Linked DNA regions of Homo sapiens: all the other regions are linked to region 1. Evidence: fine-mapped expression QTL. A gene starts in region 1. Each other region holds a variant in brackets. All regions are shown on one strand. Distances are between the middles of the regions.

Region 1 (5,849 bases):
AGAGACAGGGTTTCGCCATGTTGGGCAGGCTGGTCTCGACTCCTGGTCTCAAGTGATCCGCCCACCTGGGCCCCTCAAAGTGCTGGGATTACAGGTGTGAGCCACTGCACCTGACCCAAACACATTTTAAAGCAGAAATAAATCCCAAATGCAGAAATATTATAAATGCTTAGAAAGGGTCCCTAGAGAGTTTGAGTTTAGAATTCTCCATAGGAAAATATATTAAACATGATTTTGTCTTCTCTTCCCAAAAGTTATCACCATTCTGTGGGAAAATAAATGTTTCTATTCAATAATGTTTTGTGATAATATGGGAATAATAATTCTAACTGAAAAGGACCAGGGAAAACTTTTTGGAAGCAAGGAATTTTGTACAGCACCTTGAAGGATGGGTAGATCTTATTAGCCAAATGAAGGAAAGGCATTCCAGTCAAGGGAAAAGAATGGCTCAAGAAAAAGGGAGGGTAGAAATGCACAGAATGTGTTCCAGGATAAGCACACAGTATTCAGAGTAGTGAAAGAGAAGGCTGAGAAGGTAGAACAGTAACAAACTGTGAGGGACTCTGAACATGTGGCAGAAGCATATATTCATATTCAGCCCCCCCTTTTTTTTTGAGATGGAGTCTTGATCTGTCACCCGGGCTGGAGTGCAGTGGCGCGATCTCGGCTCACTGCAACCTCCGCCTCCCTGCCTCAGCCTCCTGAGTAGCTTGGATTACAGGCGTGTGCCACCACACTGGGCTAACTATTGTATTTTTAGTACAGACGGGGTTTCACCACGTTGGTCAGGCTGGTGTTGAACTCCTGACCTCGTGATCCGCCCACCTCGGCCTCCCAAAGTGCTGGGATTACAGGCGTGAGCCACCGTACCCGGCCTCAGCCTTTTATTTACACAATGGGGAACCTTGCTGGTATTTTTTCCCCACAAAGGAATAGCCAAGTTGGATCTCTGCTAGGAAGATAAACCAGCAGCAACATATAAGGCAGGAATGGGGAGAAAAGAAAAATACTACAAAAACTCCAGAAACAACTACTGAATAGGAAGCATTTTCTTGTCATCTCACAACACCAACGACATTGCTTTGCACATAAGAGAGGCCCAACAAACTTTAATTTCTTCCCTGGGAAGAAGACAGGAATTATGACGAGGCCAAAGAATCCTACAATAGTGAGAAAACCGGACTGTAATACATTTCTTCTCCACAGTAAAGATTCTATTCATATTTATGTAAGAAACTCAGAAAAGTCTTACTCTTCACTTATGTTTTGTATAAAGATGATTAAGAAGATATTGAAAATATAATGTGATTTATAAGATGATTTATAAAATAATGAAGCAAGATAGTTCCAACAGAAAGATTGAAATATTTCTGCGAAGCTACAACAAAACACAGCACCTAAAGGCATCTTTAAAGTAGAACTTGTCCCTACAAATGGAATCCAGAGACACAGCAGAGATTTAAACAGACACACAGAAGCAATACAGCATGTGCTTTGGGATCAGGCCATGATTTGAATCTCGGCACAGTGACTTATTAGTTATATGATCTTACGCTAAACTCTCAGTTGGTGTGGGCATAATGACACTTACCTAAAATGTGCTGTGATAATTACAGACATGATTTATAAAGCACCTGACCCAGCACCTGGCTCTGATACATAACAAAAGTACTCAACATAGTGCTGTAGTAATAACAGTAACTGTTATTATAAAATAGACATATTTAATATATATTCAAATAAATTTAGAATAACCTAAATCTATGTCAGATTTTCCATTTTAAAATTCCAGAGAACTAATTACAAATTTCTAAAGATAGATCTTAGAAATATTTTATGTTTATGAAAAGGTCATTTTTAAAACTACTATATCTTATCACTGTTTTAATTAGTCTAGTAAGCAAGTCTCAGATCTATATTAAAATATGTTTGTAACACCGAATATCTGATTTAAGAATGTAAGAAAATACAATTAAACTGCTTATCTGGCCAGAGAGGATTTTGGAGACATGCCTCTACAACAACATCACACAACTTTTTACTTTGAAACCGCTCCAATACTTAAATTATAAGTAATAGCCTGGGAAATAGCTTGCGAAAACGACTCCGTGGTAGTTGTAAAGAGAAGTAGGTGTGAGACCACCCCTAATCCCTGAGGCCCCCCTCTCCTTACACACACCATGTCAACCAACAGTGATCTACCCTTTTTAATGTTGTTTATTCACTTCTAAACAATCAACTAAAGCTGCTCCTGAATAGTGAGAACCCAATCAAAAGTGGTATTTATCAGAAGCAATCACACCGGCTATTATCAGGCCAGAAATCTTCGGTACACCCTTCTAAAGTGGCAGCTTGAAAACTCAGCTCTGTTGGTCCTGCTGACTTCCAACACACCCCACGAACGCTCCAATGCAAACCCGATAGAAAGGAAAGCCAAGAACCTACTTCGTTTAATTCTACGGTGTGGTTAAATTATGCATTAAGGCCAATAAAATTTCCATCCTTACTCGTTTTCTTTAACAGAGTTCAAATGCTACTAGTTCAAATGCTCTAACTGGTTACTATTAAAACAAGGAAATTACAGATTTTTTTTTATTCGAAGGTATTCTATAGATTTCAGGAAAGAGTTTTCTTAACGTTTTATGTTTACTTACTCTTTTTGCAGCAACTACCAATTTCTATGGTAAATCGACCAGTTGGTGCCCAAAAGTTCACTAATTTAAGCACGGTCAAGGCAGGTATTTGCCATAAACTGCCTGGTTTAGGTAGGACGCGCCCGACTCCAAGTGATTGCAATCAGCCTCGGAATGAATTCCACGGGGATTCGGGCTTTGATTCACAATTTGTTACTCACATTCAGAGTGGTAAGAAGTCGCTGGACTCTAGTATAGTTTTTATCTTAAAAAAAAAAAAAGACTCAGGAGTGAGGCTCTTAACGCTTTACTCTCATTTGAAGACCTTCCGACAAAAAAGCAGCAACTCCTCAAGCCGAGTTTCTGGTTTCTTGAGCATCGACGCCGCGTCCCCGCAGCGCCCACAGGTCCCGCAAGCCCCCAGCCCGCCTCCTGCCCAAAACAAAGGACGTCACCCCCAGACCTCTGGACACAGAAGCCCCACACGCACGCACACGCACCCCTCCCTGTCACCTCCCTCCGAGAGCCCCTCAAACGCCTCAGAACCCGCGTCGCGGAAGCGCTCACCTCCCGCGGGCGGGCGGGTCCCGGGTACGCGGTGAAGGTGCAGCGGCGGCCGCCTCGGGCGACAGACGGGTGGTCACGGCCCCTCCCCAAGGCAGGGGCACCGCAGGAGGCCGGCGCGCCCCCTGCTCCCGCCCCCGGCAGGTCACGTGGGCCAGAGCTCGTAGCGCCCCTCGCTTTCCCGGAGCGTCCCTCCGCCACCTAGGGGTCCCGCCGCTCCGCCGGTCTCAACACCGCCCTCCTCTGCGCCTGCGCCCCGGCTCCAGGCGCTCTCATTCAAACCGACAACGCCCCGCGTCTTTCGGACCGGCCAATGGCGGGCGGCGCAGCGGGGCGGGGCGGGGCGCTGGTTGCCCCCCTCTTCGCAGTCCTGGGGAACCGTCTGCGTGTCAAGGTGACAGGGGGCTTGGGAGCTTGGTCCTCCTCTGCTCCGGGACGTGTCCTCAACCCTCAGACTGAAGTTTCTTTCCTGTCCTCTTCTTTCTTCTTCAGACACTAAAAAGTAGAGCAATAAATATTGTCTAGAGTTGGCCGGGCGCTGTGACGGACGGCTATAATCCCAGCACTTTGGGAGGCCGAGGCGGGCGGATCACCTGAGGTCGGGAGTTCGAGACCAGCCTGACCAACATGGAGAAACCCCGTCTCTACTAAAAATACAAAATTAGCTGGGAGTGGTGGCGCATGCCTTTAATCCCAGCTACTCAGGAGGCTGAGGCAGGAGAATCGCTTGAATCCGGGAGGCGGAGGTTGCCGTGAGTGGAGATCGCACCATTGCACTCCAGCCTGGGCAACAAGAGCGAAATTCCATCTCAAAAACAAAACAAAACAAACAAACAAAAAACATCGTACAGAGTTCAGATAGAGGCTGGCCTAGATCCCTTTAAAAAAGGAGCGCAAAACCAGCGCCGCCTTTTTGGAAGACTTGGTGCTGCGCTACAGAATGAGTGTCCCAAGCGGCAGATGCGGGATATAGAAGAAAAAGAGGCCTCTGTGGAAGGAACAGAGGGACCGTGTGAAAGTCTGAACAAGGCAGCCTCAGTTCTTGAGGCTGTGCCCAACCCTGGCGTTTCCAGCTGTTGGAAAAGCAAACTTCTGTTGACTACAGAATCGCTGGTTCCCAGGAAAATTGGGTGGCAGTTTTACTCAGTTTCACTCAGTTTCAGCGCCTACATTCTAAAGACACTGGGAAGAATAAGTTTTATTTCCATTCACCTCTCCTCCATGTCAAGGTGACCCCAAAATAGTAGTCACCTTATAGTTTGTTCTTCACAAAATACCGGCCGGGCGCGGTGGTTCACATCTGTAATACCAGCAACTTTGGGAGGCCGAGGCGGGGGGATCACCTGAGTTGGAGACCAGCCTGGTCAAAATGGTGAAACCCCGTCTCTACTAAAAATACAAAAATTAGCCGTGCCTGGTGGTGGGCGCCTGCAATCCCAGCTATTCGGGAGGCTGAGGCAGGAGAATTGCTTGAACCCAGGAGGCGGAGGTTGCAGTGAGCCGAGATCGCGCCACTGCACTCCAGCCTCGGCGACAGAGCGAGACTCCGTCTCAAACAACAACAAAAACCAAAATACCAAGACCAGAGTCTCTCTGGGGTAAAGCATCTGATGAATTTACTTAGATTATTTTTCAAATAGATATTTCTCTTCTGAAATGAAGTTTAAATGTTTCTACAGGGTAAAGGCTATGTTAAAGAAAACTCCGGGTTCAGTATCTCCGTGAATGATGGCCATAACCAGTGATCCAAGCAACATTTCCCATTAGGTGCATGTTATGGCAAATTGCTTAAAGGAACAGCTTTATCATCAAACTAGACCTGGGTTTGAGTTCCAATTCTGCTACTTACTTGCTGATTGACCTTGAATGAGTTATCTTCTTTAGTCTTAGTTTCCCCACCTGTAAAACATAATAAAGCCTCTTCTAATAAGGGTTGCTATGATGCTTCTGTGAGGTAAGGTTGTTAAGTGGTTGACATAGGGCCTGACACATAGAAACTGCTCCATACTTGATACCTATTATCGTTACAACCATCTTTAATATCAGGTTCTTGTAAATAACAATGGAATTGGTTGGCTGTACTGTTTCAGAGGTAGGTATTAATTCCTTCTTAATTATAAATTCTTTTAAAGTATGGATACTGTGAAAGCCACAAAGGAAATTTTATATATATAGAGAGAGAGACAGGACCTCCCTCTGTCACCCAGGCTGGAGATCACTGCACAGCAGCCTCAACCTCCCAGGGCCAAGTGATCCTCCGATCTCACCCCTCCCCTACACCCCAGTAGCTGGGACCACAGGAGCTTGACACTATGTCTGGCTATTTTTATTTTTTCAGTAGAGAAAAGGTCTCACTATGTTGCCCAGGCTGGTCTTGAACTCCTGGGCTCAAAGGATCCTCCTGCCTTGGCCTCCCAAAGTGCTGAGATTATAGGCATGAGCCCCCTCACCCAGCCAGAAGTACAACATTACATTCAACATGTCCAGAATTATTTACCCCCTGCAAATCTTCTCTTACATATGTGATTTCTATCTCTGATATTAGTTACTTCCATCTTCCTAATCACTCAAATTGAAAAATATCTTTTAAATGGCATAAGTCAGATTATGTCACTCTCGTACTCGTAAACCTTTAGTGATTTCCCATTTAAT
Region 2 (5,849 bases), 46 kb after region 1:
ACCTGCAGATCTTGTTAAAATGCAGGCTCTGAATCAGTAAGTTTGGGGCGAGCCTGCAATTCTGCATTGCTAACAAGCCCCAGGTGATGCCAAAGCTGCTGGTTCTGGTCTGCGGACCACATTTTAAATTCTGAGGGTCTAGAGATTATTTCATTTCGAATGAATTGGAAATGCTGGGATTACCAACCCCGGGGTCTTAAATGATATTATATTATAATATTATAATAAGCAGTAAACAATGATATAATAATTATGTTGGCTCAGAGCTTTACAGTTTGCAAAGACTTTTTGCAGAGGAAGAGTAGTTTAGAAAGGTGATATTTGTTCAGGGTAAATGATAGGTGATGCCCGGGTCTCCAACTCAGGTGGAGGGGCACCTCCCTGCATTCTGCTAATGTAAATCTGCCTTAAATGTCAGTGGAGGAGTAACCCTGTAAGCTCAGCAATGATAAAATATAAAAATTAAAAAAAAAAAACCATGGGAAAAATGGATGAAAAAACCCTTTTTTTTTAAATTATAAAACTGATACATGCTTATTACAAGAGAAATGAGAAAATAAAGAAAAGTATAAAGAAGAAACTTCCACTGAGAGGAAAATCAATCTAATTTTTTTTTTTTGAGACAGTCTCGCTTTGTTGTCCAGGCTGGAGTGCAATGGTGCGATCCCAGCTCACTGCAACCTCTGCCTCCTGGGTTCAAGTGATTCTCCTGCCTCAGCCTCCTGAGTAGCTGGGATTACAGGCATGTGCCACCACGTGCAGCTAATTTTTGTATTTTTAGTAGAGAGGAGGTTTCACCACGTTGCCCACACTGGTCTAGAACTCCCGACCTCAGGTGATCCACCCACCTCAGCCTCCCAAAGTGCTGGGATTACAGGCATGAGCCACTGCGCCTGGCCCATTGCTAATATTTTAGTGTATATCCTTCCAGTCTTTTTTTCTCCTATATATACATTTTGGCCAAAATAGGATTTTACTATATATATTGTTTTATGCTTTTCATTTAATGTTATATTTTGAGCAGCTCTCCACATCACTTAGAATAAACTATCGCTTCATTTTTGATGACTGTACTATATTTCATTATACTAATGTACTCTGACACATTTAGACAATCTCTTATTGATGGAGATTTAGTTTTTTCCAGTTCTTTGATATCATAAACACTGCTTCAGGTAACATCATTTGACATGCAAACATTTGTAGTTGATCATTTCCTTAGAATAAAACCCTAGGATTGCAGTTAATGGTTCAAATGGTACATGCTGAAAATTCTGATAATCTGGCCTTTAGGAAGTCCATGGGGGTTTATAGGCTGAGGGCAGTGCGTGGGAATGTTGGTGTCCCCAGTTTGAGCCTACCCCAGACATTTTTTTCTTTTTCCAACTTTTGCCAAATGCATAAGTGAAAACTGATATCTCATTATTTTAATCTTGCTATTTTTGAAACTCAATCTATTTTCATATGTTTCTTGGCCACTCGCACCTCCTCCTTGACAATATTGATATTTTAAGTTGTTTACAAAACTGAAACCACCATCAATTAAAAAAAATGTAGATAGACAACTGAGAAAATATTAAGGGCAAATAATGTTCATTGTTGAGAACTTCATTATATCAAATGCTGTGACAAATTCCCCAAGGAGCAGAACTGTGGTTAAGAACACAAGCATACTGGCCGGGTGCAGTGGCTCGCGCCTGTAATCCCAGCACTTTGGTAGGCCAAGGCGGGTGGATCACTTGAGGTCAGGAGTTCGAGACCAGCCTGACCAACATGGTGAAACTCTGTTTCTACTAAGACATACCAAAATTAGCTGGGTGGGGTGGTGTGTTCCTGTAGTCCCAGCTACTTGGAAGGGAGGCTGAGGTGGGAGAATCACTTGAAATTGGGAGGGAGGTGGAGGTTGCAGTGAGCCAAGATTGCGCCACTGCACTCCAGCCTGGGCAACACAGAGAAACTCCATCTCAAAAAAAAAAAAAAAAAAAAAAGAACACAGCATACCAGTCAGATAGGTAAAAGTTAAAATCCCAGCTTTCCCACTTACTCATGATGCAACCTTGCCAAATTGCTTAAATCCGCCAGGCCTCAGATCACTCACCATTAAAATGGCGACAACGTGCCAGGATGGTTGGAAGTATTAAGGAGACTATAAGGGAAGCACCTGGCACATCATGAACAACTAGCAAATGGTAACAGGAAAACACTGAAACCCTCCAAGAAAATTAATGGACAAAGGACATGAGCTAAAAAGTCACAAGTAAGGCCGGGCGCAGTGGCTCACACAATTACTCACAATTAAAGTAATCCCAGTACTTTGGGAGGCCGAGGTGGGCGAATCATGAGGTCAGGAGCTCAAGACCAGCCCGGCCAACATGGTGAAACTGTCTCCACTAAAAATACAAAAAATTAGCTGGGGGTAGTGGTGGGCACCTGTAATCCCAGCTACTTGGGGGGCTGAGCCAGAAGAATTGCTTGAACCCGGGAGCTGAGATTAGGCCACTGCACTCCAGCCTGGGCAACAGAGTGAGACTCCGTCTCAAAAAAAAAAAAAAAAGTCACAGGTAGGAAATACAACCAATAAATCAGCATATAGGAACAGACTTATTTCCTTTAGTCACAGAGGAAATGCAAATTAACACAAAAGGTGACACACCCCTCCCTTCAATTAACAGAAACATTTTCAAGTGATAATTCCTGATGCAGAGGAAGGTGTGGTCAAACTGAGCCGTCCACACTGTTGGTGGCTGTGAAATCTGTACAACTTTTGTGGAAAGCAATTTGGCAATATGGGTCATCACACAAACATGTTCGCAACCTTTGGCCCAGACATTTCCTCAGGAAGTAATCCAAGATGTGGAAAAAGCTATGTGTACAATGATGCTTCTGCCATTGTTTATAATGATGGGAAAAGTACATTTATTTTTTACTTACATAAAGGGTAAGACCTTAGTCAAAAATACACAGTGGGTGGTAACAGCCCTCACAGGTCAGTGGAGTAATTGTTTTGTGTTAAAGAGGGACATATAACCAATCATTTAGGCCCCCAGACAGTCCCTAAACCCTGTTTTAATTCATAGTTGAATATATTTATTTAGAAAGGCTTTTAGAGCTCTACTAGCCAGCGGTCAGATTAATAGATCTAAAAATTATGTTCCTAAATCTGTTCATTATCTGGCGAAGCTTGGAGTAATTTGAAACTAAGGGAAAGATAAAAAGGGGAGAGTATTCTGTCATCTGTACACCAGATTTTAAAATCTGTTTAGAGGAGGAAGGAAGCAAGCCAGGGT[G/A]GAAACTTCCATTCTTCAGCCCAGGCCATTAGAGGCGCAGCCCCGACTGAGTGACACATCAGAACTAAGGATGGGCTCTTTCTTCTTTCCCTCCTGTCCCCCTGCGCCTCCCTTTCCCCAACTGGAGGAGAGGTTTGGCGAGTCTCTCTGCCTGAGGTGGCAAGTTCAGCCGGACCTCAGCTGCTTGCTGGGCTGTGCGTGTGCAGCCGCGGCGTGAGTCACATCCTCTATCACATCTCCATCTGTGTGCTTTGTGGCGCAGGAGGATCCCAACGGCACTCCAAGAAGGCAGGATTGTGCAGAGATGACGGCACCCAGTCCGAGCTGTGCCTTCTGTCGCAGGCTCCTTGAATGGTGAGGGCTTCTTGTGGCTACATTCCCAGGGTGGATTGGAGTCAGTCCTGGCATAGTAACTCCAGTGAGAGTGGGCGGCAACTAACTGAGGCCACTGGCTGAGTTATAGAGTCACAGATCTCAGGCCTGGGCACAGAGCCCAGCCTCCCTCGCACCCTACAGATCCTCTAGCAGTGGTCCTCAACTGGGGAGACCATCAAAATCACCATGGGAGATTTTACAATCATGCACATGCCTCCATCCCACCTACTGTCTCAGCATCGCCAGCGGTGGGGCTCTGGTAGGAATATTGCTTTTAAATCTCCCCAGGTGATTCCGATAAGCCCCCTTGGTTAAGAATCATGGTTACAGCCCACGGAGGGTGGTCCTGTAGGCTTTTGATCATTGCCCACATGGGGGATTCTTATCCTGTATAACAAACAGCTCCCACCATCCCTACTCTCTCCTTATGATGAGCAAAAGTCTTCTCTGTTGGGTTTCACCTGAGCCCCCCAGTCCCAGGAACAAGCCTCATCCCTCTTCTCAGGGCTGATTTCTTCCCATTCCTAAGGACGAAATCTTCCAGAGCTAACAAGCTGTAAATCATGTAAAATCCTCAGGAGAAATCCTTTGTTTTTGAAACACCCATTGGTGCAACTATTAATCTGTGTCGATTCAGTATCATTTATTTGAAGCTTCTTTCAGGTAGCGAGAGATGTTACCTCTAAGCTCACTGTGGACTCCGGCCAAAGCTCGGCTCATTGACCTTTGGAAGGTCAAGAGTCAGGGAGGCAGCAGGTGTTTAGCAACCACTGTTATATGTACGTAATGGATTCTAATAGAAGCAGATGACAGGGTCTGAAAGACTGAGGCTTCCTGTTAGAAAGCATTCCATTGTGGGAATGGGCACCTGCCTTAAGAGTTCTAATGAGTGTCCACCCCTGAAAAAAGAAACTGCATGAAGCTCGTGCTAAAAATGGTCATGTGTCATTGTGTGTGGGTCATTAAACCACCATGTCAGTCATCAGCTTTGAGCTGCCCTTTAATCCAAGGGGCACTCATGAAGCTTACTCACTGAGTCATCCCAGGCCTACTATTTTTATTTATTGAATTAAAGTCTAATTTTGGATTTTTAAAGGTTTTACTAAGTATAATGAAAGTATTTTGACATTAAAGAACCATTTTTATTAAGCACTCAAGGTACTAAATTTCTCTCTTCTAAATTCCTAGTCTAGACCCTACAGAAGTACATTAAGTACCAAGACAGGGACCAATGTTCCAGACTAAATAATACTTTTTTATGATAGACAAGCTGGAAAGACAAGCACAACCAAGTGTAAAATCAAATCTCACAGTGAATCCACTGCTGGGGAGTGATGAGAAGATACACATGACTTATGAATTAAAATCTTGTAACTTACATAATCCCTGAGGAATTATTGATTGAAGGGAGGACTATATATTCTTTCTGTTAGAAGATTAAATCTCTCTCTGATGGGACTTGTCCTTTATGAAGCTTGCTGAGGTACATACTGTTTTCAGGATATTTGTAAATTGTTTATATATAAGTGGATAAATTACATATGTATAAAATGTAAAATATGCTTATCCCTTTATGTTATTTCTGATGCAAAACTTTGGATTTAAGTGTGTACTTTAGCTGCTTTGTCTTGTTGAAAAACTGTCTTCTCCAGAGGAATTATGTTTGGCCAGAAGATTTGAGTACACAAAGGAGTTTAAAAGCAGAAAAAGTCCTGTGTTGGACTGCATGCACTTGAGTGAGATCCAAGTTTCCCACTTTGGAGAGCAGATGTTCAAATGCCCCAGAGGAGAAGGGTGGAGACAGAAAATGAGGTGTGAGAAAATATGTGACTCAAGAGGACAGCATGTTTTTCCAAGAGGAGGGAAAGAGCCTGGCTTCTCAGCCCCAGCCCCACAAACCCGCAGCCCCATCCCTTCTCCGCCAACAGCAGGCCAGGGCACAGCGCGGCGAGCATGTGTTTGCCCAGCAATGCCTTGGGCTCAAACCCTAGCCCTGGGCAATCTGCCTCATTTATGCCAGGATATCTCGGGCACAGTGCCTTCCATACTAAGAATGAACAACTTTCCCTGGGGGCTATGACTGTATCCCAGGAGCTTAGCAAGAGCTTTGTTCAGAACTGTTATTAATTCGAATTCCTTTGGAGGAGTTGGGATTTCTGAGGAGGAGGGAGGAAGCTGCAGGTGGGC
Region 3 (5,849 bases), 180 kb after region 1:
CAGCCTACAGGGAGAGCTTGAGGAGTGCGAACTACTGCACAATCTCAACGTGGGGGAAAAAAGCAGATTTAATCATTTATAGGATTCAATGTGATCCACTTTTACAAAATATTTTCACACAGTCTCATCTTTGTTTTTATGCTGTTTTTCTTGGCTCTCTTGTTCTATACTTTGGCTCCTTCGACGATCATGTTTGTCTGACTGGTCCTTACTATCACTGTGATCTCGTTTGTGGGAACGTTCTTTGCTTCTACTACGCTTTCTAGATTTTTCTTTGCTGGGACTATGTTCCCGTTTTTTTGATTTTTCAACACTGTCAGTTCTTCCTTGACTGCCACTTCGACTTCGTTTATTTGATTTTTCTTTACTTTCATTTTTATGTTTACTTGATTTCTCTTTGCTTCTACTTCTACTTCGTTTCCCTGCATTTCTACTTCGACTCCTACTTCTGTGTTTCCTTTCTCTGCTTCTGCTTCTACTGTGTTTTTTCTCTTTCTTGGAATCTCTTTTGTCATCTCTGTGCCGCCTATCATCTTTGTCTTCTTTATGTTTCTTCTCTTCTACCTCTCCCCTACTTCTCTGTTCCTTGGACCTTTCTCTTGATCGCTCTCTCTCTTTTTCTCGTTCATTTCCTCTTTCCTTATCATAGTCACGATCTCGTCTTCTACCTCTCTCATTTTCTTTCTCTCTTTCTCGATCCCTGTCCCTTCTATCCCCTTTCCTATCACGACTTCGACTGCGACTTCTATGCCTTTCCCTACTTCTGCTGCGCCTGCGTTCTAACCCCCGGTCAATACTTCGGGATCTTCGCCGTTCTTTCTCCCTTTCTTTGGCTTCACGCTCTAGTCGCTGGCGTTCTTTCTCTCTTTCTAATTCTCTGTCAAAACTAGAAGACCCATGGCCCTCCCGATGATGACTTCTACTTCTTGACCTTCTTGGGGACCTCCGTGGACTCAGAGATCTCCTTGGAGACCTAAGGAAGGCGGAGGGAGAAAGAAAATTTCAATGAATAAAACATATGCAATTCTTTTCACAGTAAAACTTTCAACAGCATTATTTATTCATGTCCTCAAGCTTAAGGCCATGTCAAGAATCATTAAAGCAAAAAATTTTATTGTTCTCATTTACAGATGCATAATTTTATAGAAAAAGCCCTGAAAGGAAGAAAATAATCTTTGGGGGGTAAAAGTGACAAACTAATAAAATGAACAGTAAAAACAAATTCCTAAGAACTTGCTATTTCTCAGAACCATTAATTTTGTATAAAGCATATATGAAAAATAAGCATAATTCAAGAGTGACATTACCTTGAACGTCTGCGTTCAACATGTCTGTCTATTTCCTCAGCACCTTCCTTCCCATCTTTCTTGATTTTTCTAGGTCGGGTTTTAATCTGTTGATCAATATTCTTTTGAACTGGAACTGGAATTCTTGGAAACAAGGTAGAAAACCACTCCAGTTTTGTGAGAAAAGATCGTAGCATTTCTCCAATGGTCATTACACAGCCTCCACCAGCCTTCACATCTAGGTCCTACAGAAACACAAAAGATACCCTAGCCGTCAAAAAAAGTATTTCCATATATACATGAATATTATAAAAATATTACCATCTTTGGAATCTCAATACAAAAAAAACTAACAGAAAAATTTTATTTTCATATCCTGATCTGACAATGAATGAACAGAAATATTTGGGCTTAGTGTGTGCATGCAAGTGAGAACAAACCCTGCAGCCTCACAGGCATAAAGGGAACTGATCTCACTCAGTTAACAATATGAAAAAGCCCCTTACATTTCTAAACTATGCGGAACGATTGACTTAAATTTACATTCCACATACCTACTATGTATTTATTTCTGTGGACATATTTGCACACATCATATACCTTGCACCATAACCTAGCTACATATGATCTACTTTAGATAATTCCTGTCTAAAGGTTATCTTTTAACAGCTCTAATATAAAATGAAGCCCTAATAAAACTGGAAGCAATAGCAAACCAACTGCCATGAAGCAGTGAGGTTTCTAATTTAGTTATGTAGAAAATAAATAAATGAACAAATAATTGGAAACGCATAATCCATGATGACCATTGTCTCTGAAAAGGGTCATTACCGCATGAAGGCCTTCTTGCTATGCCCTCTCACAGCTCAGGACATGTTAGTCAGCTATTGTCAGTCCCAAACCTATAGTGCAAGCACACAAGGAAAGTGAGATTTGTTATCTAAACAGGAAAACAAGAGCTAAAGGTAAAACTGCTTGCACTCACACACATTTAAGTGTTCAGATATACAGTATTTCCAAATATAATCGCTGCAGATATCTAAGGAAGAAAACAATAAGTTAGCTTAAATAGAGGACCTCAGATTTGTAAACACAATAAAAAACATAAAATAGAGGCATCCAGAAACAAAACCAATACAACACCAATTATGAAGAGGAACATGCTTTTTTAAAGACAGAAGGGAGAAGCACTTCAGTCTGAAAAACTGATCTAAA[G/A]ATAAAAAGACCTTAAAGATTGTGATTTAAAACACGTTTTGCTTCTTCTGAGTGAAGTAACTCAGTTAACAGGCAAAAAAAAAAAAAAAAAAAAAGAGAAAAATAAAAATTCTCCATGTCTAAATGAGATTTTTTTTTTTTTTAGGTGTGCATGTAATAACAAAACACAATAGATTTCCATTAGAACCATCCTTTAATTCAATAAATTCTTTGGATGAACTCTGTAAATAGACTACTGACACATAGCACTCAAAAAGTCTTATGAACCTTAAAACACAAAGTAGTAGACTGGGTAGACATAGGGACAATACAGCTCATCATTTCATTTTTGACATGTTGGACTTCACCATGCAAGTAAATTAATGCATATATGATATTTTGTTTTGTTTTGAGAAAGGGTCTTACTGTGTTACCCAGGCTGGAATGCAGTGGCAATGATCTTGGCTCACAGCAAATTCTGTCTCCTGGGCTCAAGTGATCCTCCCACCCCAGCCTCCCAAGTAGGTGGGACTAAGATGCATACCTCTATGCTCAGCTAATTTTTAAACTTTTTTTTGTAGAGATGAGGTCTCACTATATTGCTCAGGCTGGTCTTGAACTCTCGAAGTGTTGGGATTACAATGTGAGCCACCACGCCCAGCCAATGCATACACGATTTAAATCTAACTTAGTATTTCAGATTTCAAATTAGGGAGACTCGAATTACAATTTAAAAAATTTCTTTTTTAAAGGTGTGTGTGGTGTACTAGGAGTCAGAAAACTGGAATTAAAATTTTGTCACCTTGAACAAGTCATCCAAACACTTAGCCTATTTATGTAACACCCAACTCTTCAATTCTGCACTTCTATGCAAGTGGGAATACTGATATTTGGAAGAAGCTAGAGGGTGAAGAACTGAAATGTTCCAGAAGAAAAAAAAGCTACAATTAGTATTCTATGTGCATATCTTTTATTATCTGTTCGATCTTGAGCATGCCCCATCTTGAAAAGTCACTATTAACTATACAATTCAGGATCAATACAATACACAGAACATAATTAAGAAGAGAAAATTTTCCAATAGTTACCAAACACATTTAAACAATTTTAAAACAAGAAAATAAAACTTCAGAAATTTACCCTAAAATACATAAAAGCCATCAGGTCTCAGTAAAAGGACATTAATTCCAAAAGTATCTCACTGAAATAAATTTAACTACAGGAAGTTCTTGAAGACATTAAACCACCAATAAATAAAAGATAATAAAAATATGAGAGTAATCAGAAGAAAACAAATTATTACCCTTGTTGACATACCTCTTCATCATCAAGGAAGGATTCAAACCAGTCCCACAGATCTGTAGGGGGCTGTGTATATCTAGAATTACAAAAGACTATTATTAAACACATGTGAATTAAAATGAGATATTTACTGGAAATGTACATAAATGTACGCTCACCTTATATACATAAATCCAAGCGCTCTAATATATGGAGAGTCTGTGTGTGTTATAAGACCCATCACTTGCTTTCGAGTTAACTTCAGGGTAAATAATTTGTATAACAGGCAAAATGCTGTAGAAACAATTCCTCCTGTTCCAACACCTCGAACCTTTAGGGGAAACGAGTTAAGAAAAAGTAGTAAAATAATTAACGGACTCTTAACACCAATTGATTAATCCTGTTAGGTATCAATAACAATCCATAATCCAGAACTAAGGAGCATTAAAAAGTAACACTTTTCTAACCCTATTTCACTGAACACTTGAATTTGGATTAAAAAAATTGTCACTCAAGTGTATAATTGACAGGCCTCTAGTTCTCTAAATATAAACTTAGTTATTAGACACAGAAAAACTGAAAAATGCACGTACTTCTACTTACCCCTCCGCACATCCCTGTCTGGCCCGCTGTTTTCCTGCTTCCTTTCTCCCATGGTTCAACGTGCGTGACCTGAAAATAGAAAAGAGGAACACAACAAACATTCATACTTTGAATTTGTTTAAAAGCCTGATAAAAGTAAACCCAAGTCCATAATAGAGCAGCTCTTCCAAAATTATTTTGGCATTAAGTATATGTTTACTGATATTAAGTGTGTAAATCATTTTTGGAAAAACTGCTTAGACATTTAGACAGCACCCATAAAGCTACTAGGGTTTAACAAAACCTTAATAGCTTTGCAGAGGAGAAATCCCACTCAACTAGCTTTATAAAGAGCTGATATCTACATCTGGGAGTCAGAAAATTTCTATAGTCTCACTTGGTTGCAAAAACTATTTGGTAATATTTTAACTTTGATAATATTTGACAATTTAACTTATGGGTTGCTTAACATTTTCCTTTAAAAATGGATTTAAGTCTCCAATTTAAAGCAAAAAGTATTAACGTTAAGCATTAATTTAAAAACTTCAAAACACCTTCAATAGTTCAATTTTATTGTAATTTAAAATCTACATTATAAAATTAAGGAAAATTACTTGAAGAAAATTTTCTAAAACAGTAACGAGTTACTTGTGATGCAAAATTATGGAACTTTTTATTTGTACATTTTTTCCACCAGGGTCAGGTTTATTCCTGATTAAAGATAAAATTACAAAGGCCACACTTACAGAGATCATTGTTGTAATTAAGCTTCAGCCTAATTATGTGTGAACCAATCCAATTATTCCCCAGAATATAAATTGTGTCAAAAACTGAGTGTGAATAGTCACTGGCATATACTAAGTATCATCAAAGATGATACAGTATCATATTTGCTAAGAGGAACATCTTACAAAAACTAGTCCTTATCTAAAAATAGCAACAACAACAGCAACAACAACAAAAGAATATTAACTCTAAAATAGAATCCAAAAAGGTCTTTTGGGAAGACCCATCTTTGTTTTTTTTTAAAAACATAAAAAAAAATCCTGTTTTTTCACTGCATATTTCTAAAATTCTATTTCCACCCACATGGTAAATTTTGTAGTCCTGAACAATGGCTTTAGATAGAAAAGCGTGCATGTAAGTTTAAGCACTACACTATTTTGCAGTGCTTTAACGTTTCCTTTCTTCCCCACAGATTGCCATGTAAAAGATGTTTCAATTCCTTAAAAGCTAGCCAAAGGCAGGGCTGGATGCATACAAAATAAAATTACAAAGTTGGAAACTTATAAATTTCAGTGAGTATTTGATCTGAAAGTCTTAAGTCTTCTTAATATTAGTAAAAAAACTGGGTCTTTAGTTTTTTAACGGAATTTAAAAACAATTCCTGGTAGAATCTTGTTTCAAAACACATTTGAAACTTAAAAACGAGACTTTCCTCTATTACATTAACATTTTGCCTATGTTAGAAAACAGAACCTGCCGCAGAAAGAGCAGGAACCCAAT
Region 4 (5,849 bases), 24 kb after region 1:
ACTCAGGAGGCTAAGGGAGGAAGATCAGTTGAGCCATGGTGTTGTCACTACACTCCAGCCTGGGTGATAGAGTGAGACCTTGTCTAAAAAAAAAAAAAAAAAGATACTCTGTTTTTTTTTGTTCTAAAAAATTAGACAATATTTTGTTTAAACTTGCTTAGTGATTTATTTATTTATTTATTATTTTTTATTTTTTTGAGACAGAGTCTTGCTGTTGCTCAGGCTGGAGTACAGCGGCATGATCTCGGCTCACTGCAACCTCTGCCTCCCGGGTTCAAGTGATTCTCCTGCCTCAGCCTCCCAAGTAGCTGGGACTATAGGGATGCACCACCATGCCCAACTAATTTTTGTATTTTTAGTAGAAATGGGTTTTGCCACATTGGCCAGGCTGGTCTTGAACTACTGAGCTCAAGTGATCCACCTGCCTCAGCCTCCCAAAGTGCTGGGATTACAGGCATGAGCCACCTCATCCAGCCTGATTTTTTTTTTTACCTTCAAATATATTTATTTACAGATTGAGTTTTAAAATTGTCTTAAAGTTCTTGTAGAGATTATGTCTTTTTTGTTTTGAGACGGAGTTTCACTCTATCGCCAGGCTGGAGTGCAGTGGCGCGATCTTGGCTCACTGCAACCTCTGCCTCCCGGGTTCAAGTGATTCTCCTGCCTCAGCCTCCTGACTAGCTGGGACTACAGGTGTGCGCCACCACGCCCAGCTAATTTTTTGTATTTTTAGTAGAGACGGGGTTTCACCATGTTGGCCAGGATGGCCTCCATCTCTTGACCTCGTGATCCACCTGCCTCGGCCGCCCAAAGTGCTGGGATTACAGGCATGAGCCACCTTGCTTGGACGAGATTATGTTTTACATATGCAATTCCTTCCTTTATCCTTTAAATATCCCCACGGATAAGGAGTGCCTCACCTCTGGACCTGGGCATTCTTCAGTATTCCAATACTGAGACTGGTTTTGTTTTTTCATTTTTCAACAACAATGTATGGAATTCTTACTCTGTGCCAAGCCCTATGCCGAGTACTTTAGTGCCTTATTTCAGGTATTGCTAGTCCTATTTCTCAGAAAAGGCAACCGAGACTCACAAGAGTTAAATAACTTGCCAGATGACACACAGCTAGAAAGCAGAGAAGCCAGAGTATTCAGATCCATGCCTCTCCACTTCTGCTTTCCCACTGTGCCTTTCACTTTCTTGGGAAGCCTTTTCCCTTGTTCTTCAACTTGGATTAGAATAGCCTGTAATTCTTCTCATGAAGACATGCCTCACTTTATACTAAATGTTACCCTCTTTAAATGATTTAAAATAATCCTGCAGTGATATTCTCCTTTCTCTCCACCTCTCTAAACAGAGCATCTGTTTAATTTGGGTTCTCTAACATTGGCATGTGTCTATAAATTAAGATTTTTGTACAATGTCTCACAGATGCTTTTACCACATTTAGTTTGTACTCCTTTTTTTCTTGGACGACTTAGTTCAAAAAAATTTATTTTGGTCAAACATATGATTTTAGCTTTTGAGGTTACCTAATAAATCACCAGCTTATAGACTCATAAAAATTTGGTTGGAGAGAGAACCTCAGAGATCTGCTCACCCAACATAATCATTGTATGGGCAAGGGAGGCTGCCAGCAGCTGTGGTCACCCTGGGCTGGTGCTCCAGGGGAGAGGGAATCTCAGTTACTCTACTTAAAACTTGAGATTACTACTTCTGAGGAATCATCCCAAAAGTTCACAAATCAGGAAGAGATATCTGAATGGGTGCTTTAAATTTTGTTTAAAAAAGAGAAAATAGGACTCATACCAAATGGCAGCTGGTTTTACTCCAGCCATTTTCAGGAATATCCCCAAAGAGTCTGGTACCACCAGACCGCCGCCTGGGCTGTGGTGGCTGGCAGGGGTTGTTCAGGGAAGGCAGCCTCTCTGACTAGGTTCCTGCCTGAGTCCAAATTAGAAAAGGGACATTTGGCTGCAGACTGGCCTCCAGGTGTTTGAAAGCCTATTTGTCCCTTGGTCACATTTCTTTTTTTTTCTTTTTTTGAGACGGGGTCTCTCTCTGTCACCTAGGCTGGAGTGCAGTGGCTTGATCTCGGCTCACTGCAACCTCTGCCTCCCAGGTTCAAGCGATGCTCCTGCCTCAGCCTCCCAAGTAGCTGGGACTACAGGTGCTTGCCACTACACCTGACTAACTTTTTGTATTTTTAGTACAGATGGGGGTTTCGCCATGTTGGCCAGGCTGGTCTCGAACTCCTGACCTCAGGTGATCCGCTTGCCTCAGCCTCCCAAAGTGCTGGGATTACAGGTGTGAGGCACCGTGCCCGGCCCCTTGGTCATATTTCTGTAAGTCCTTCTCTGCCCTTCTCAGACATGCAAGGGAAAGTCAGGAGAAGGGGACCAGAAGGTCTGGAGGGACAGGTGAAAAGGCACCAGAATGGAGAAGGTGGGTGTTACATGTGAGCTAGGCCAGCTTCCATCGCCACATGGCTTAGAAGACTGTCAGTGACACGTGGACAAGGCGTGGCTCTGGTAGTTAAAAAAAAAATCAGGCCGGGCGCGGTGGCTCACGCCTGTAATCCCAGCACTTTGGGAGGCCAAGGCGGGTGGATCACGAGGTCAGGAGATGAAGACCATCCTGGCTAATATGGTGAAACCCCATCTCTACTAAAAATACAAAAAATTAGCTGGGCGTGGTGGCGGGCACCTGTAGTCCCGGCTGCTCGGGAGGCTGAGGCAGGAGAATGGGGTGAACCTGGGAGGTGGAGCTTGCAGTGAGCCGAGATTGTGTCACCGCACTCCAGCCTGGGCGACAGAGCGAGACTCCGTCTCAAAAAAAAAAAAAGAAAAAAGAAAAAAAATCAATCCTTTACTTGCATCCCAAGTTCCTACTTTGGGAGAATAAACTCCAAATACTATCTCCTAAGGGAGGTTGATAAGTATTTGGCCATTAACTGTAGACTAATGTCATCCTCAAAATTTAATAAATGAAAAATGTAACACTCTCTTTTTTTTTTTCCCCCATTCCTTGCTGTTATTCTACTGATTGTGTTAACATAGTGTGGATTGAGGTTGGGTCAGCTTGTGGTTGAGCTTCCTGCCTTCCTGTTTGTAACTGAATTTTTCAAATTAAAAAAACATCCACTTTGTTCTGGCATAGTTGTATACATTATTCCAATATATTTAACAATGAGGCTGTTCTCATTTCACACAGAATAGCACACAGTGAAGACAGTCAGTGAGAACCAGAGCTATTGTTACAACTGACAGCAGCCAGCTCAGGAGGCAGAGGACGAGAGCGATCGGGCTGCACACACATGGATGAGGCTGATTTTTCAGAACACACGACTTATAAGCAGGAGGATTTGCCTTATGATGGGGACCTCTCTCAGATTAAGATAGGCAATGATTACAGTTTTACCTCAAAAAAGGATGGCCTTGAAGTCTTAAATCAAATTATTTTCATAGCAGATGACCCTCAAGAGAAGGCTATGCATA[G/A]TGAGACTTGTGGAAATACAGCTGTGACCATACCCCTGGGTAAAATTACTGAAAATGCTGCCAACAAAAAAGACGAGAAAGAGAAACAATGCACTGCAGCTCTTCATATTCCAGCAAATGAAGGAGACGCTTCTAAGTCAAGCATTTCTGATATTTTACTTCATCATCTTTCCAAAGAGCCATTCTTAAGAGGTCAAGGCATTGATTGTGAAACCCTCCCAGAGATCTCAAATGCCGACAGTTTTGAAGAGGAAGCTATTATTAAAAGTATTATTTCATGTTATAATAAGAATTCTTGGCCAAAAGAACAAACCCCAGAACTCACTGACCAACTCAACCCGAAAAGGGATGGTGAAAACAGCAATAAGCCTGGTTCTGCCACCACGACAGAGGAAAATACCTCTGATTTAGAAGGGCCAGTGGCTGCTGGAGATAGCAGCCATCAAGAAAATGTGAATGTTCTAACTAAAACCAAGGGTCCAGGTGATAAACAAAAAAGTTATCAAGGGCAGTCACCCCAGAAACAGCAGACTGAAAAAGCAAATTCAGGCAACACGTTCAAATACGGCCAAGGTCAAGTTCATTACCAGCTCCCTGATTTCTCTAAGATTGCTCCCAAAGTGAAAATTCCTAAAAATAAGATAATTAATAAACCACTTGCAATAGCTAAACAAGCCAGCTTTTCTTCCAAGTCGAGAGATAAACCCACTCTTGTGCAAGATAGTCTAGAAACCACGCCTGAGTCAAACTGTGTTGAAAAACAACATCAAGAGCAGAAAGGGAAAATCACTGAACCTTCACAACAAATCCAGGTAAATGAAACAGTCTCCTGTAAACACATTAATTGGGACCACTGCTTATCTCTTTCAGTGTGGGTTTTTGGAGGGTGAATAGAGCTTGGTTCTAGTTCCAAAGTTTCATTCAGCACCCTGGGTCACCCTGGATGAGTGACGTGGCCACTCCGACTCTCAGTGTCCTCACGAGAAGCATCACAGGCTACACTGACAAAAACATATAAGAGAATAAAATCCAAATTCCGCAAGCCGGAATTTGGCTCTCCTCACTTAAACTTAGCTGCCTTCCTTCAGGAGTCATCTGCAGTTACCTGGCTGGTCCAGAACCTCTTCCCAGGCCCTGAGCTCTCTGAGTTCCTGCCTTGCGTGGCACATCCCATCTTGACTTGCCAAAGACCTGCTTGTTTTCATGGCCTCCTTCAATTCCCCCTTGGGCCACATAACTTTTCAGGTCTCCTAAGTCACAACCTTTTCCACACTTGTTTAGTCGTTCCATCAGAGTGTGTATCTCAGCCTGCTTTGGATCTTAATAGCAGAAGCATCTGCTTCCTCCACTAGATTCTAAGGCTCTGGAGGGCAGCAACCTTATCTTCGCCTTTCCATTGCCTAATTTCCCCCAGAGGCCTGGCCTCGTGTCTTAACGTACGTTATGCCCTTAGTTATTCATGCTAAGTCCAATGGAATTAAGATCGTTAGTAATGGATTTCAAGCTTGTTATCTTGGTAATCATTTGGTACAAAACTTTGTTAATGCTTAATTTATGCTATTCCCCCTTTCCCTTACGCCAACTTCTCACACTCCCCCACCAACTTCTCAACATGCTGAGGCTCAGGATCTCATTGATGTTTGAGGCCCAATAGTAAGGTAAATCCATCTTAATAATCAAAATATACATTTTAGTTCTTGGGCACTTTGCCTAGAGTGCATGATCTTTCCTTTGAGCCTTATATGAAGGTGTCCTGGACTGAACCACACTGCCTGTTTCCATTTCCATTCTCTCTCTTTTTCTGTAACCTAACCTTGGAAGTGATTTTTCTCTCTCTCTCTTTTTTTTAATTTCCATTTCCATTTTCACACTTCAGCTCCCCTCTCTTTCAACTGAATGCCTGGGGAGTTTGAGCAGAACCCCCTACATCCAAACCTGAGCCAACAGCCCACCTGGCCATGACTGGGATGCTCTCTAGGTCTGAGAGAAACCTACACCCCCGTGGTATTGGGAAGTGTCGGGGTTCCTTGTTCTGCTTGCAGGAGAACATCCTCATTGTGTCCAGTTCTCAGTGCCCCGTGGTTAGCAGGAGCAGATGGATATCAGGCTCTTCTCCCTCTGGTATGGGGGTTCGAGGTCAGGTATCTGATTTTTTCCAGTTCTGTCAATTCAGATTGGAGAATTGGACACTGCAGGTTTCATATCCGTCATATAGTTGAGATGTCTAGAAAGACCATAGTCCATTTTGACCAGCTCTCCAGCACTAGCGTGTTTCTGAGCTTTATGTGTTGGGAACAAAGGAAAGACCCCACAAGGTGAATCACTCTGGAATTTAAACTGTTCAATTAGCCA

Direction of the effects. Positions count from the first base shown, and alleles are read on the strand shown. Sizes are in standard deviations (SD) of each study's normalised expression. Not every link is listed here.
For the expression in pituitary of the gene that starts at base 3,444 in region 1, allele G in region 3 goes with a higher level than allele A (large effect, 1.2 SD a copy in GTEx).
As copies of G replace A in region 4, the expression in lung of the gene that starts at base 3,444 in region 1 goes up (moderate effect, 0.55 SD a copy in GTEx).

Evidence for each region. PIP is the estimated chance that this variant, and not a neighbour inherited with it, causes the effect.
Region 2: its variant is fine-mapped to the expression of GPSM2 in sun-exposed skin (GTEx, PIP above 0.99).
Region 3: its variant is fine-mapped to the expression of GPSM2 in pituitary (GTEx, PIP above 0.99).
Region 4: its variant is fine-mapped to the expression of GPSM2 in lung (TOPMed, PIP above 0.99).

The regions. Positions count from the first base shown.
Region 1 is chr1:108,874,580-108,880,428 of GRCh38, reverse strand. It overlaps GPSM2 (G protein signaling modulator 2), which reads right to left and starts at 3,444. Exons shown (of 15, transcript NM_013296.5): 1 at 3,201-3,444. RefSeq lists silencers at 3,049-3,118, 3,209-3,608 and an enhancer at 3,689-3,788.
Region 2 is chr1:108,828,351-108,834,199 of GRCh38, reverse strand. It overlaps AKNAD1 (AKNA domain containing 1), which reads left to right. Exons shown (of 16, transcript NM_152763.5): 10 at 3,550-3,641. LOC105378891 (a long non-coding RNA gene) reads right to left here. Exons shown (of 5, transcript XR_947687.3): 3 at 1-10. Among named protein-coding and RNA genes, the nearest start is that of AKNAD1, 26 kb to the left of the region's middle. The variant G/A (reference allele first, on the strand shown) is at 3,288.
Region 3 is chr1:108,694,286-108,700,134 of GRCh38, reverse strand. PRPF38B (pre-mRNA processing factor 38B) reads right to left here. Exons shown (of 6, transcript NM_018061.4): 2 at 4,365-4,433; 3 at 3,941-4,092; 4 at 3,798-3,858; 5 at 1,308-1,531; 6 at 1-973. The coding sequence ends at 115. Among named protein-coding and RNA genes, the nearest start is that of PRPF38B, 4.9 kb to the right of the region's middle. The variant G/A (reference allele first, on the strand shown) is at 2,502.
Region 4 is chr1:108,850,132-108,855,980 of GRCh38, reverse strand. AKNAD1 (AKNA domain containing 1) reads left to right here. Exons shown (of 16, transcript NM_152763.5): 2 at 3,214-4,309. The coding sequence starts at 3,317. Among named protein-coding and RNA genes, the nearest start is that of AKNAD1, 4.0 kb to the left of the region's middle. The variant G/A (reference allele first, on the strand shown) is at 3,498.